Linked DNA regions of Homo sapiens: region 2 is linked to region 1. Evidence: fine-mapped expression QTL. Tissue or cell type: whole blood. Region 1 holds a variant in brackets; the other region holds the start of a gene. All regions are shown on one strand. Distances are from middle to middle.

Evidence for each region. PIP is the estimated chance that this variant, and not a neighbour inherited with it, causes the effect.
Region 2: it holds the start of GOLT1A, and the variant in region 1 is fine-mapped to the expression of GOLT1A in whole blood (TOPMed, PIP above 0.99).

The regions. Positions count from the first base shown.
Region 1 is chr1:204,254,770-204,262,870 of GRCh38, reverse strand. PLEKHA6 (pleckstrin homology domain containing A6) reads left to right here. Exons shown (of 23, transcript NM_014935.5): 7 at 1,423-1,565; 8 at 3,131-3,613; 9 at 5,002-5,518. Among named protein-coding and RNA genes, the nearest start is that of GOLT1A, 45 kb to the right of the region's middle. The variant G/A (reference allele first, on the strand shown) is at 4,453.
Region 2 is chr1:204,210,681-204,218,781 of GRCh38, reverse strand. It overlaps GOLT1A (golgi transport 1A), which reads left to right and starts at 4,794. Exons shown (of 5, transcript NM_198447.2): 1 at 4,794-4,900. The coding sequence starts at 4,876. RefSeq lists an enhancer at 4,267-4,923.

The DNA.
Region 1 (8,101 bases):
CGCAAGTCTCAGCTTCTTAGTCTTCACTGGCTTTTTGTCAACACCTCCCCTGCCCTCTCCCACACCTACATGCTAAGCCCTCTGCTGGAGGGTGGGGACCAGAGGAAGGAGGCCCACCCCTGCCTCTTGCTGGGTAATGGCTCCTGTCAGAAAGAAAATGAGGGCTGGGGACAGGTGGAGGCGAGGTGGGACCAGCTGCAGCTGAGGAATCTTTTGAGCATTTAGAGGGTGTGGGCTTGACGTTGCTGTTCAGGGGAGCCCTGAAGCTATCTCAACCCCCAGAGACCCAGGATTTAGGGCTCAAGGGGTCAGAGGCTGGAGTGAGGCTCACATCCGAGACTCTGAATCACTGCTAGATGTCCCCTGTTGAGTGGGCTAAGCTAGGCTACTGAGGATCTCACTGGGAAGTGTGCTGAGGTCCCAGAAAGCATTTAGTCCTGTGGCCTCTTTTCCTTGTGGCCTAAGAACTTTGAATTTCACCAGGCAGACTCTTTTCCCGTGAAATAGATGCATCAGTGAAGACCAGAGCAAAACCACAACTTGTCTGCAGTTGCAGAGCTGGTCAGGAGCAGAGCCAGGCTTAGCACTGCGATTCCCTGACTCACTCTCCACCACCAGCCTGAATTTCCCTGGTGCAAGCTCTCCACTCCCCACCCCTTGGTAGGCAGAACTGGGCATTGTTGGGTGCTGCCATTCCCGGGGGAATGCTGAGTAGAAGAGGACAATCTGAATATTCCCCCTTCCCTGTGCTCCTCACCGTTTCCTGCCACGTCGTCTTCTGTCTCTCCCTTTGGTGTTTGGTTGACCTGTTCTCTGCTTCTCCTCCTTCTGACCGCGTGAGGACCCCTCCTCTGGACAGGAGCTCTCTTCTGGGTTCCCGCCCGCAGTACCTGCTCGCAGCCACCAACTAGGTAGTGTGCCCCATCTGTATGCCAGTGCCTGCTTTGCATGCCTGCAGAGAGGGGCTTGGCTGTCTCTCCACGTGGAAGAGACAGTGCTAGCTTCTCAGCAGTGAAGCTGGGGCTAAGATTGGCATGTGCTCAGGGGGTCCTCTCTCCCAGACATGGGGTCATTGCCTTTGAAATCAAACATGGAATTTGCCGGGAGAATGGGTGTGATCATTGTCCCTCCTGCTTTAATTACCCCAGGTGGGGCAAGTAGGCTGACCTGGTTATTGGGCTGCCTAATGGTGCCCAGAGAGCCAGCCAAGGTGGATACGTGGGTACCAGCTGGAACCCTCGGGGTAGCTGCAAGCTGCCCTCTTCACCTTGCTCCTGAGCTCCGCATGGGGAAGAGCCCCAGGTGCAGGGAATGGCCCAACTGACTGCCCATTCTGTGGGCGTTGGTGTCTTCTCCCAACAGGTGACTGTGTGCTGGGTGGATGAGGCCGAGGCCAGCTCCACACGCTGCCTCTCCCCACAGGCTGAGCATGCCGGGGTCCGCACCTACTTCTTCAGTGCCGAGAGCCCCGAGGAGCAAGAGGCCTGGATCCAGGCCATGGGGGAGGCTGCTCGAGTACAGATCCCTCCAGCCCAGAAGTCAGTGCCCCAAGCTGTGCGGCACAGGTGAGTGCCAGGGAATTGAGTGTGGGGGTGCAGGAAGAATAAAGAGGGGAATGGAAGACACACCCAGCTCTGGGCCATTGCTAATCCCAGTGTGCCTACTTGAAGCCCTGGAGAATGTGTGAGCCGTCTCCTTGCATCCAGGCGGGAGGCCTGGCTGAGTGATTTCAGAGCCTGAAGTCTCTCTTCCCCTAGCCAGCTCCTCCTCTTCTCTCTGAGCTCGGGAAGGCCAAGAGAAAAGCCAGGTTCCATTGGGGTCTGGCCAGGAGCCAGAGGTCAGGGTCATTTGCTGGTTTTTCTCGGCTGTGTGTGTTAAGCACACCGCCTTTGGAGGAAAATAAACTCAGGTTTGAATCACACCTTGTCCACTTGGCTGTAGCGTGATCTCAGTGCAAGGGACTCACCCTCTCTGAACCCGAGGTTCCTCTGCTCAAAAACCAGCAAATACAACTCTACCTCATAGGGTTGTTGTGAGGCCTACACAGAGTGCGTGTAAAACACTCAACATGCAGTAAACTCTTAACATATGGCCGCTCCCATCGCCCGCCGTCACCCACGGTCTCAGCGTCTGTCTCTCCCTTAACTGGATGTGGAGTCTTGAGTTAGGTGCTAAGGGGGATCCAGGAAAAGGGGGTTTCACAGTGTAGGCTCCAAGTCCACATATCTTAGAAATGTTTACCAAGCAATGTTTCAACAATCCCACTTGAATATGTGGAGTTTGGGAAGCTGTAGGGGGAAAATTGTCACAAATTTCCATCTTCGCTTCAACCAAGGGGCATAATTCCAAGAGTTCATTCATTCATTTCACAAATACTTACTGTAAATATAAATGTGCAAGGCACTGTAGTGGGTGCTAGGAACACAGGGGAAGAAAGTCTGCCATGTTCCTACCCTTGTGGGGCCTGTATTCTCATGGAAAGTCAGTCCTGGAAGAAATGTGTTTTGGAGAAGGGAACTAGCGTGTTTATGTGCTTGTGAGTTTGAAAGCAGAAACTTCTGCTCCTGGTGCCCGCCATGTTTTATCTCACAGCAGTCCTAGGAGGGGAGCTATTATTATGCCCATTCTGCTGATGAGGAGCCCAAGACTCTTGGCAGTTAAATAACTTTCTATAAGAAAGACAGCTGCCCCGTGACAAGCCTTTGTCACTGGAGTATCAAGGACAGTTACTGATGTGAGTGCAAACCCAGTTTGGGGAGCTGGGTCAGGGATAGATCGCAGAGAGGACCAAGACTAGGTGAGGTTAGTCATGCCATAGCTTGAAGGCTGGGCTCAAAGCAGACTGACAGAGGGGAGTGGGGTGGAGAATGACCTGCAGAGAAGACGTGGGGGGCAGAGTTAACACAGCAGGTGTGGGCAGGGGCGGATTAGGTTGTATAATAATTTCCCAGGCTGGAGCGAGAAGGTGAAGGGGTGGGACTTAGGAAGCAGAACTGGAGTTCATAGAATCCTGGTTCCAGCCACCTCCCTGCCCATCCTTCCCCACTCCTCTTCTTCCCAGTCTGGCACCCCCTGCCCCACTCCATGCTGGGCTAGAGTCACTGACAGCATCTCCCTTGGCATCCTGCAGCCATGAGAAGCCAGACTCGGAGAACGTCCCACCCAGCAAGCACCACCAGCAGCCACCCCACAACAGCCTCCCTAAGCCTGAGCCAGAGGCCAAGACTCGAGGGGAGGGTGATGGCCGAGGCTGTGAGAAGGCAGAGAGAAGGCCTGAGAGGCCAGAAGTCAAGAAAGAGCCTCCGGTGAAAGCCAATGGCCTCCCAGCTGGACCGGAGCCAGCCTCAGAGCCGGGCAGCCCTTACCCCGAGGGCCCAAGAGTGCCAGGGGGTGGGGAACAGCCTGCCCAGCCCAATGGCTGGCAGTACCACTCCCCAAGCCGGCCAGGGAGCACAGCTTTCCCGTCTCAGGATGGAGAGACTGGGGGACACCGGCGGAGTTTCCCACCACGCACCAACCCTGACAAAATTGCCCAGCGCAAGAGCTCCATGAACCAGCTTCAGCAGTGGGTGAATCTGCGCCGGGGGGTACCCCCGCCTGAAGACCTTCGGAGGTGAGGCATGCCGGCGGCTGGGGTGGGGCTGATATGGTATTATGGCTAGAGCGTGCGAGTGGGGTCATAGCCCACGAGGCATCCCCTGTTGGAAACCTTCTGGAAGCAGGCTGAGTTGGGAAACCAAGCAAATCCCATGCTTCCTGGCTTGCCCAAATCCTGCCTGCCCCATGGCTCCACCATTAGAGTCTGGCTGCTGTCCCTGATTCTTGGTTTCTTTGTCTGCTTCCTTCAGAAGAAGGGACAGAGTGCCCCAGTGCCTCTCCACGGCGTGCTGGGGAGCCCAGAACACAGCAGGCTTTGGGAGGGGGCCTGAAGTTGTTATAGTCATACATCCATCCAAGCTATGGGCCCTCCTACAACATCCTCTCCCCAGTGCTCCACCCACTTGAGACTCACTAACTGCCAGACCAACTCATTCCATTTTTGAACAACTCTAATTGTTTTAAAGCCATGATTTATATGAAGTTAAAAAACAAAACAAAGTAGCTCATTGGTCCCAACATGGCCATCTATGACCATTTACGCCTTTATCCAATGACTGACTTTGAAATATCTGGGGACATTTATTGGGCCCAATGGTGTCCCTCAGGGCAAATGGGCTGCAGGCTCCTTCCCTGGGGATTTGGGCAGCTCCAGGGACTGCAGGCCACAGCTTCAGGAAGGCCATGGGGCCCGGGAGGAACCTGCCCTCTAGTGGCCTGAGCGGCTGCGCATTGCTGGTGGTCTGGTGCCTGGGAGCATCAGGCCTGCTCTGGGGAGAACCACTTGGGATGAGTCCCAAGAATCTACTGGTTCTGTCCCTGACAAGATCATACAGTCAGGAAGCTGGGCATGGT[G/A]GCTCACACCTGTGGTCCCAGCTACTACTCTACAGGTGGATGTGGGAGGATTGCTTGAGCCCAGGAGTTCAAGGCTGCAGTGAGCCTTGATGGCCCCACTGTATTCCAGGCTGGTGACAGAATGGACCTCATCTCTAAAATAATATAAAATAGATCAGGAAGCCGCCCTTTCTTTCATCCCTCCTACATTGCCCTCCTTCAGGTGCCTGGTAGACTTTCTTCTATTTGCCTCTCTCAGAAAAGATCTGATAAACTGGTTCATGCTGAGATGGAGATGGCTGATAAGGCTTCACGTTTCTTCCTAGGGATATGTCATTTTAAAGAGGCAAAGATTGAAGCTCTGAATGGTGCAGTGTCCAGCCTTGGGGAGTTGTTTGAGGAGGGGGGCTGTGAGGACAGGAGTCTTTCCCTCATCTCTGGAATAAACCTCAGCCCCTGTGTACCTATTCAAGCACCCTGCTCTAGGCTGGGGGACCTGGAGGTGGGGCTGGGGTGGGTGGAGGGGTGCCCGTGTTGTCTGCCTTCATTACAATGTCCCCTCTCTCTCAGTCCCTCTAGGTTCTATCCTGTGTCTCGCAGGGTCCCTGAGTACTATGGCCCCTACTCCTCCCAGTACCCCGATGATTATCAGTACTACCCGCCAGGAGTGCGGCCGGAGAGCATCTGTTCCATGCCGGCCTATGATCGGATCAGCCCGCCCTGGGCCCTGGAGGACAAGCGCCATGCCTTCCGCAATGGGGGTGGCCCTGCCTACCAGCTGCGAGAGTGGAAGGAGCCCGCCAGCTACGGGCGGCAGGATGCCACCGTCTGGATCCCAAGCCCCTCCCGGCAGCCAGTCTATTATGATGAGCTGGATGCCGCCTCTAGCTCCCTGCGCCGCCTGTCCCTGCAGCCCCGCTCCCACTCTGTGCCCCGCTCACCCAGCCAGGGCTCCTACAGCCGTGCCCGCATTTACTCCCCTGTCCGCTCACCCAGTGCCCGTTTTGAGCGGCTGCCACCTCGCAGTGAGGACATCTATGCTGACCCTGCTGCCTATGTGATGAGGCGATCCATCAGCTCCCCCAAGGTGAGCCACCAGCCTGCCCTTCCTTCCTCATCCCCTGAGGTCCCCAGAAGCCTAAGACCATCTACTGAGAAAAGGCAGAGATGTGGGAGCATCTGTGCCACGGGGCCACTGGGCCGTTTGTCTGCAGGACCAGCAGTGCTGCCCAGCGGAGCCCCTGGCCTGTGGTTCTGTCTGTAGGAGAGCTGTCTTGGGGATGGCTTTGCCTCTTGAGTGGGGACATTGCTTTCTGTACATGCCCCCAAGTTGTGCCAGATACCATGCCGTCATATAAGAGGGCAGAGAGGGTTCTGTCTTTTCAAATCTTGAGGACCTGGACAGATCATTGCAAGGGGGGCTGCTGTCCATTTCAGTTTGGGATCTGCTCTGGGAACTGAACACAAATACCTCTAACCTTGAGCTTCAGCTGTTGGGGAACTCCGTGTCCCAGCCAGACCCCTCACCTCTGCGATCCCTTTCTCTTCCAGTATGATTACCTGGGAGACAGGCGGCCAGTCCCTGCAGGACTGTTCCCCTACAACTACCCACCATCCCCCACGGTCCACGATAAGATGGTACGTCCTTTCTCCCCTCCACCTGTCTCAGGGCCTCCCCGCACCGTGCTCCACTCAGGGTGGAGCTAAACTGGGGCGGACTCCAGGGACGCTCTGTGCCTAGTGCCTGGCCTGGCTGGTTTTTAGCAGCCTCTGGATACCTCCTCCCTCCCAGCCAGGACTCTAGCCCCAGTATCAAGTTTGGTGCCAATAACCCCTTCTCCTCTGTGACACAGCCCGTGGAGGAGGGATGAGATCTGGGAGCATGTAATATCCTGGTCCCTCTCCTCTCCAGCATGCAGGAGAAGGGGCCTAGGCAGGAAAAATCAGGCCAGAGCTCCTAACAAGAAGCAAGATCTTCTAAACTTTTTTCCCCTGAAGCATAGTTATTTCATGTTTGTCCTTTGCCTGGAATGCCACTTTTGGGGAGAGATACAAGCGATATGATTGAGGAAGAAAAAATTTTCCGAATTGCATCTCCTCCTTTTTCTCTGCCTCTTTCTACTCGTGTCTCTCCCTGGAATTTGTTCTCCTGAGAACTTTTGCCACCACCTAGAGACCTAGATAAGATGCTCCACTTGGGAGGGTTGGGGAGGACCACTGGGACCAACAGGCAGAATCCTTTTCCAGAAAGCCTGTTGCTGACTCATTTCCATAACAGTACCAGGAGGCCAGAGTGGAGGAGGGCTGGGCAGGCTGGAGGCTAGGCGGCTGCTCCTTCCCCTCTCTGTCTGATTCTCACTCTGCCAGTGTCCACAGCATATAAGCTTTGCCCACAGCAAACACACGCACCCAGAAACAACCGATTTTTCCAGAAAACTCAGAAACAGCTGCTAACAAGTGCTGCCTAAATTGCTCTGATGACACTCACCTCTCCCAGGGAGGCCTAGGCAGACCTAGGAGAGATGGCACTGGGGTCTGCGTGTGCCCCTCCTCTCCTGGAGTGTCCAGTAGAGAACTACTTTGCCTGCCCACATCCTCAACCCCTCCCTTCCTGAGAACTCCTCAAGGGCAGAGGGAGAAGCCTCTCCTTGTCCTTGTCGCTAACTCTTAACTGCTTTGCTTCTTTTTTTATTGTTTTCTTTTGTGTGTTCCTGTTTGTTTGTGTTGCTGTTTGGCCTCTGGGCCTCGGGCTCCGGGTAGGATGAACTTTTAGATCTTCAGTTGCAAAGAAACCTAGAGTATTTGGATCAGCAGGTAGGCAGAGCTGGTGCCCCCCTTATCATCCCACTGCCTTCCTGTCGCATCTCTCCACTCCTCCCCACCTCCTCATCTTCCAGCCATTTGACAACCTTTGTTGGTGCAAGCAGGACACAACAAAGTGGCTTATGTTTTGGTTTGCGCCTACACACCCCTTCTCTTCAAAGCCCTTTAGGACAGCTGGGAGTTTCCTGGGGAAAGAAGCATAATAAGTAGGCACATGAATAATTAATGCCACCTCTTATTTCTCCAGTGCTCAGCTCAGATGGAACTGCCCCCAGGGGGCAGGTGGGAATTTGCATTTTTTCTGGCGAGAGGAGGGAGTCGCAGAGTCGAGGGAGCTCTAGGCTGGGCCTAAAATGCTAGGGATTTAGTTCAGCCTGAATCTGGGAAATCATCTTATCATATTTTACAGGTTGTTGTTAAACTCCATAATTGGTAAACTGAGGCCTGCAGACCCTCCCTAGGATGATTTTTAAAGTAATATTCACTCAGTGTATTCATTAGTTCCTCCAAAAGCCCTTTTGCATAAACAGCTCGTGCATTCCTGAGAATTCAGTGCAAACAGAGGGAGTATTATCAACCCAGTTTTACAGGTGAGCAAGCTGAAGAGGCAGTGAATGTTCCATGAGCTGCAAGCAGTGGCTGCCTGGTCTCTGCTCCGGGGTTCTAACCCTTTCTTGTCTTTTAAGCTAAGGGAGCTGTGAGACTGAGTTTAGACAGGCTGGGGGTCAATATGCTGGGTATTTATATAAGCACATACTCTTAAGTTTAGATCTGTGCTACAAACCACGACCTAGAAGTACACAACACTGTCCTGTGGAGGCAGCCTGGAGGGGTGGAAATAATAATA
Region 2 (8,101 bases), 44 kb after region 1:
GGGGTTGGCAGGAAAGGGGAATGGGGGCTGGGAGGTAGGCTGGGTGTAAAACATGTGCTCCTTCCTCCCCTGTGCCTCAGCCTGCACTTTTTGGCCTCCATCCCCAGGAGCTGGGGAAGCGAGGGTATGCTACCAACACCAGCATCATCATTTCAGTTCAGGTGACCCCAGATCAGGGTTTGCCCCAAGGTTCTGTATAATGGCAGTATCAGATGCTTCAGGCCCTGGCACCTTCCCTTGGTTTGACTCATACAAAGGACAGGACAGCAGGAGAAGAGAATGAATTCCCAGCCTTTCTTGATTACTACACAATGCGCTATATTGCTGCTTTACAAGAAGTTGTATAATTTGGTGGGAGGTATGAGACCACCCCAGTTCTCATTCTGCCTCCATCCCTTTGGTTTATTTCTCTTGGCAGGTGTTTTGTGGTTATCAGGTATTGACACTCTGTGTGAAGGGCTTTACCAGTGCTTCTCAATTTGGAATCTTACTGTGGGGACCAAGAGTCAAGAAGCCTGGTAAATTTTGTGGGGTGGGTAGTGGAAGAGAAGAGGTGCGCCCGGGAGACTGGCAGGCTCAGCGGGGCTTCTGCATGTTGTCCGAGGGAGGGATGGCTCAAGAAAAAGCGAGAAGGAGAGATGAGAAAGCAAGCTTCCTCTAATTCCTGATCTTGCATCGGCTTGGCTTTCATGGCTGAAGCTGAATTCTGGACACCTGTTCCCATTTCTAAGGGCTAGTACGGGGGAGGTCATTTTTAAGATTCGACTCTATTTTGGATTTTGTCACATCCCCAGGATGATGTCCTTTGTGAACCCGGGAGAGTTGTGACCAGATGTAGGCTCTGGGGGAGGGCCTGCATCAGAGGCTGGGGTAGGGGGATGCATATTGGAGAACTCGTCACTTTCTGGGGGGCTGAGCCTTTATCTTCAGGCTCCATCTGAGCCAGAGCCAGTGGCAAGGGCTTGGGGAGGAGGTGGAATGTGAGACCACAGAGTACCACCGGGCATCACTGCATCCACCGACAAGGGCTGCCTCCTCCTCTCAAGAGATGATGCCAGCTGGTGCCTGCTCCATCCCCTACCAGATCAAGCCAGGTTGGGATTTGTAAAAAGGGGGTAGTAGCTGAGAAATGTAAATGAAAATGCAATAGCAGAATGTCCTTTAAGGAGCAGAGCTGTGTAACTGCATGATCACTTATTTATTCTTGAAGACAGGCACGACAGGGTCAGGCAGGCAGCCAAGCCTCAGACCCTGCTGCTGCCAGGGAACTGGGGCCACGCCACGTCCCCCTCCTCATCCCGAGCCTCACCTCGTTACTGAGACCAATGAGAGAAGGTGGCATGTCATCCTCAACTCCTGCCCCTAGCAACATGCTCCTTGCTAGCTGCATGAAGATTTGGACAAGTCATTAAATTCTTGAGTCTCAGTTCCCTCATCTGGAAAATGGGTATATTAACCACCATCTTATGGAACTTTCAAGAAAGACAAATGAGAAAATGGATGAAAATCACTTTGAAAACTCAAATTCACTTCCAAATGTGAGGAAGTGGAAGTGGTGATGTTGCAAAGGCTCCCTGGCCACCTGCAGGGGCCTGATGTGGGAAGAGGGAGAAGGTTTTCCAGGACCCCTCCTTTACTAGCTCTACAGCCTTTGCTGGAAGACATCACCAGGGCCCGTGCCATCCCTGAGGTGTCCCTCCCCTGCCACTTCTATGCCTCCAGCCCAGGGAGTAACTGCACTACCCCACACTTTTCTCATCATGGCAGGGTCATGAGACTGCCATGGGTCGAGGACTAGCACCAGCCTTCCCGGCGTTGTCCCTATGAAGGTCCCTCTCCAGAAGGATGAGTTGTGGACAGCGCCTCTGGGCTTAGCTCCAGTACCCAGAGAATCAGGCCCGGAGGGCCCAGTATCATGAGCGTTTAATTCTCCTGAGCTCACAGGTGGGTTCCATGGCTGGGGGTGGGGGCAGGAAGGGGCATCCCCAGTTGCTATTTTATACACCTGCGGGAGTGGTTTAGCACCACAATTTGAGATGACAGTAGAAGTCTTTCATATAAAGCATATTAACAGTATACTAATAATAACATTAATAACAATAGTAATTATTATAACTATACAGTAACAGGAATAACAGTGGTTCATTAAGTGCTTACTATGTGCCAGGTACCTGGTTCTATGCACTTCACATGCATTTACTCATGAATCCTCATCCTCTATGTCAGTCATAGGTACTATAATTATCCAAGAAGCTGAGGCACAGAAAGGATAAATAAAATGCCCAAGGCTTCACGAAGCCAGGATGAAGCTCTTAACCTACGAGTGATTTCAACAGGGATGATTCTGGCCCCTAGGGGCATTTGGTTGTCTCAATCATAAGGGTGCAAAACTCTTGCTGGCATTTCGAGACTGCAATGCACAGGACAGATTTCCAAAACAAAGAATTGTCCCATATCCTGTACTACTTTCGAATGTACAACTGAACTAAACCCACTACCAGTAAAAGTTGGTCATACTTCAATTGACAGTAATACCAAAAGGTTTTGTAAGCTTTTAAAAATAAATTTCATGAACACTCAGAAAGTTAGGAGATGGTTATTATGGAGCAGAAGCTTAAAAGGAATAAAGACATTGTCTTAAAATTATTGAATAATCTACTCCATGCATTGTCTACACAAAGGATTATAAGATTTCAGCTACTATGTATTTGATTGAAAACAGTTCTGATCAGTAGGTGATACTGAATAAACGAAGAAATTGACTGAAAATATTTAACAGAGGATATGTGAGAGAAGCAAACATGGAATCAGAGACACTTGAGATGCAGAAGATCTCACTGAGTTTCCTTAATAAAAGTTTTTAGGGTTTATTTCATATTATTGCCATCCTTTATATGTTTAGTTTTTTTGGAGCCCAAGGATGCTATGTTGTCATAATTATGTGTGGAAATGTTGTGTCCTGTCTTTACAACACTGTCCCGGGTGTCCACATGCAATTGCTCTAAACCACTTTTATCTTCTTTTCTTTTCCCAATCCATCCTCTATCCCCCATTGCCCATTGGAAATATGTGATCTCTAAGGCCTTTTAAGATCCCAGAGACTGAATTTTACCTCAACGCTGATATGTTTCAAGACAGAGGTTGATGTGTCTGTGGTACTCTATGGCGACCCCATTCCATGGGAGCTATTTTGACAATACACACATACCTAAGACTGAGTTCCTTTGCATGCACATCATACTTCTATATTATCTCCACCTTGTGCTCTCTAATTTGCCTTGCTATGTTATCCCTATTTCAATTAAGATGCTTTCCCTCTCATCATATGCAAGTACGTCTGGTCTGTTATTCCTTATCTAACAGTTTTTATTCTATGTTCACTTCCTGCTACTCTTTCATTTTCTTGCATGTGTGTGATTTTTGTTTTTGCATAGAATGGCTCATCTTCTATTTCTCTTAAATTCAAACATATATTATGTGTGGGTGCAAGCAATCTGCCTATTTCATTTATGTCTTCTGGTAAGTCTTGCCTGAACATTTATATATTGAAAGACATCATGTTTTATTATAATTTATCTTTTTGTTTCTTTTTAAAAAATTATGTTAGCTTTCCTTGGTTTTGTTGTTGTTGTTTGGTTTGTTTTTTTTTGAGACAGGATCTCGCTCTGCTACCCAGGCTGGAGTGCATGGCTTGATCACAGCTCATCGCAGCCTCGACCTTCTGGGCTCAAGCAATCCTCCTACCTTAGCCTCCCCAGTAGCTGGGACTACAGGCAGGTACCACCACATCCGGCTAATTTTTTATTTTTATTATTGTAGAGACAAGGTCTCACTATGTTGCTCAGGCTGGTCTCAAACTCCTGGGCTCAAGCAATCCTCCTGCCTTGGCCTCCCAAAATGCTGGGATTACAGACATAATGCATTTTGTATGCCAGGCCTATTTGCATTTTTAAATGATGTATATAGGTAGTCTTTGAAATTCATTTCTTCATTTCTGGACACAGAAGACATTGCAAAGTGGATGTTGGCTCTCCTGGCATCAATGCCACGTCAGAACCACTGCTCTGCGATGGGAAAAAAGGATGTTAGGAACTAACTGCCTCTCTTTTTGCAGGCCCAAAGGACGAATCCATGTCTACACAGCTGGTGGGTAGACTAGAACCAGGCCTCCTAAATTGTGCAGTCCTGCCCCAACCCCAAATTCAGGGCTTTGTCTTCCATAGCTCAACATCACAGTCAGTCCAAAGCTTGGACGCCGCTTGGGGAAAGGAGGTCGAAGACCTTCACGTCTAACTTCCCCCATGGCGCTTTTGCCATTGATTTAACCCGATCTGGCTCTGCCATTAGGTCAACAACAGGCTTTGTGCTCAGTCGCTCATCGCCTCCCAGCGCCTAGCATGTGCAATAGCAGAGAGCAAAAAGCTTGACTTTCAAGATGAATTTAGTACATTCCCAAAGGGATGCGCAGATGCCAACTCTTCCCACACTATCAAACCAAGCAAGAAACTTGAGCACCCCCTAGATTCCAATGCTTCCACATACAATCTAAGTTTCGCGGAGCAGACGAGAGCCGCAGAACACCGCGAGGTGCGAGGAAAGGGTCAGGTGGGCGGTGCCTTCCCCGGGCAGGCGCGGCAGGTGGAGGGGCGGGGCATTGCCCTACCGGAAAACGGGAGGAGGGAGCTGGCGAGTAGAAGCACCTGCGTGGTGTGCGGGGGTGGAGCGGGGGCTGGAGGGAGAGTTAATGATTTGCCACAGGCTCATTTCGCAACTTAACCAAGGGTCAGCTTCCCGTGACCATGTACCAGCTGCGTCCTCTGGGCCACGCTCCACTTGCCCGCTTCCACCCGGAAAGCCCCCCAGGCTGAGTGCGGCATGATCTCCATCACCGAATGGCAGAGTAAGTGGGATGAGCGGGGCTGCAATGGGCTATCCAGGCCAGGCTCCCTGCCGGCTGGCTCTCTCTCCCAGCTGGGCTCTCTGTCACTACAAGCGTGACCTCTGGAGCCAGGGGCTGGGAGATGCTGTGCTGGCACCCTGGGGCAGCAGGCAGGGTGGGGTGTGGCTCCCTACCCTCCAGCGGGTGGGAGTTGCTCAGGGCCCACAGGTAGCTAGAGGCTGGTGCCCAGGGGGCCTGGCAGGTTCCCCATTCACACTGACCCCTTTCCCATCCCGGGTTCTTAGAACTGGGTTGCCACAAAGGTGGACTCAGGAGGCCTCTGCCCATTCAGACATCTTTCCCCACACCATCAAGGTCTCCTGTGGCCCTGGGGGCTTCTTATAAAAAACTAAACTCCACTCCCCTGACCAAACCACCATACCCTCACTCCTAAACATCCTTCCCCTTCTTTTGGGGGAAGAGGTAGGGAGGAGGTCTTGGAACAAGTCTGGGGCCATGGGAAGAACCGTGGCTCTGTGGGCTTCATTTGGGTGAGTTACTTAAAGCCTCTGAGCCTTGGTTTTTCATCTGAGAATTGGTGACAACATTCTTTTGTTCACTCAACAGATTTGTCTCTGCTGTGTGCCAAGCACTGTGTTGGATATAGAGTGTCCAACATTAAATGAAACTGACTCCCTGCTTACATTCTAGAGAGGGGAGACAGGTAATTAACAGAAAGAAGTATATAGTATATCAGAAGATGATAAGTCCTCCAGATGAAAATAAAACAAGAGGAGGCTATGGAGTTCGAGGTAGGAGGGGTCGCTATTTTATATAGAGTGGTCAGGGAAGCCTCACTGAGAAGGTGAGCCTTTATTCAGATCTTTTTTCAGAGATCTATAGGAAGTGAGGAAGCAAAGCCACGCAGCTCTCTGGAGGGGAAATGTTCAGGAAGCAGGGACAGGCAGTGCAAAGGCCCTGAGGCATTAGCATACTTGGTGTGTTTGAAGAACAACAAGGAGGTGGGTATACCTGGAGCAAAGTGAGGTGAGGGGAGAATCATAGGAGTTTAGGTCAGGGATGTCACTGAGGGGTCAGGACACTGGAGACTTATAGACCATGGTAATGACCTTGGTTTTGTGCTATGGTGTGATATGTTCTATTTCTATGTTTAAAAGATCATTCTGGGTGCTGGGTTGAGAATAGACTGTGGAGGTATGAAGGCAGCAGCAGGGAAGCCAGTTCTTTTTTTTTTTTTTTTTTTTTGAGACAGAGTCTCACTCTGTCGCTCAGGTTGGAGTACAGTGGCATGATCTCTGCTCACTGCAACCTCCACCTCCTGGGTTCAAGCGATTCTCCTGCCTCAGCCTCCTAAGTAGCTGGGGTTACGGGCACCCACCACCACACCTGGCTAATTTTTGTATTTTTAGTAGAGATGGGGTTTCTCCACGTTTACCAGGTTGGTCTCGAACTCCTGACTTCTCAAGTGATCCACCTGCCTGAGCCTCCCAAAGTGCTGGGATTACAGGCGTGAGCCACCGCGCCCAGCCAGGGAAGCCAGTCCTGAGTGTGTGAAGGTGGAGACCAAGGTGTTAGCAGGAGATTAGCGGGGCGTGGTCCATGCTGGATCTGCCTTGAGGAAAGCGTTGAGGATTTGCTGACGGTTTGGACATAGGGTGTGAGAGAAAGAGGAGTCAAGAATGCCTTGTATATTTTTTAGCCTGTGCAATGGGAAGGGTTGAGTGGGGGGAAGCAGGAATTGGGCTTTAGATGTGTTGAGTCTGTTTGTGCTGTTAGACATCCGGGTGAGATGTCAGGTAGGTGGTTGGGTATGTGAGTCTGGAGTTCCAGGTAGAGGCCTGGGCTGGAGACAGAAATGTGGGAATAATCTGCATATACATGGTTTTTAGGACTATGAGCATCCATGAGATCACCGAGGGCAGGCACAGTTTCTCACCTCCCCACTATTGACATTTTGGGGCAGGATAATTCTTTGTTGTGGGGGCCTGTCCTGTACATTATAGGATATCAGCAGCATCCCTGGCCTCTATCCACTACATGCCAGTAGCACCCCCACTCCAAGTTGTGACAATAAAAAATGTCTTCAAACATTGCCAGATGTCCCCTGGGAAACAAATTTCCATCCCGCACCCCGCTTCCCCACCCACAATCCCCTCAGCCCAGTTGAGAATCATGGACCTGGCGAATAAAAATATAGAGAGAGGTGGGTTGGGTCCTCAACCCAGTGGCACGCTGACACTTTGTTAAACCAATTAGCCTGCAAGTAATATACTCTTACCAAATATGATAAGCAAGTCCTGTGAGAGAGAGAAATGAGGGATTTAGGTCAGGGAAGAGAGTGGACCAGCTTTCCCTGAGCAACTGACATTTCAGCTGAGACCTGAATGATGAGGATGCATTGTCAAGTAACAAGTGAGAGGCAGGGTGTTGCAGACCAGGAAACTGCATGTACGAAGGCCCTGAGTCAAGAGGGCTCACATGGAAGCCATGGAGAACAGTGTGGTTGGAGCATGGCAGGCAATAGGGACAGTGGCAGGAGATGAGGTGGGCAGGCAGGCCTGGGCCCCACCAGGCAGGGCCTGTGAGCTGTGGTGTGGATGAGAAGGCTCTGCTGCAGTCTAATCTCAGTGGGCAGCCGTGAAGGAGTCTAGGCAGTATGCTAACATGATCAGGTTGTATGTTTTGCAAGACCTTTGAGCGCCGTGTGGAGAAGGACTGGGAGGGTGCAGGAATAAAGCAGGAGGCCAAATGGGGGCTGCTGCATACGTCCAGGAAAGAGATGATCGTGGCCGGGAATTAGGTGTTAAGAATGGAGAGAAATGGACAGCTTTCAACATGTATCTTGGAAGAAGAAAAGAAAACTTAGCTGTGGATTTCATGGGGGAGGGGTGGGCTTCTGCGTTAAGTGGTGGGGTGGGCGGTGGTGACATGTTTACTCATTTGAGGACAACCAAGGGAGGCACAAGTTGAAGGAGGGAAGATAAATAGACCAGTTTGGGATTGAAGATTAGCCCAGTTCAAGATGGCTGAGAGAAAACCAGGCAGATATGCCAAGTAAGCAGCTAGATATGAGTTTCAAAGCCCAAAGAGAGGCATGGACTAGAAAGAGAGACATCAGTGTCATCAGCATACAAGGGAGGTTTGAAGACGTGAGAGGCTGGGTGTGGTGGCTCATGCCTGTAATCTCAGCACTTTGGGAGG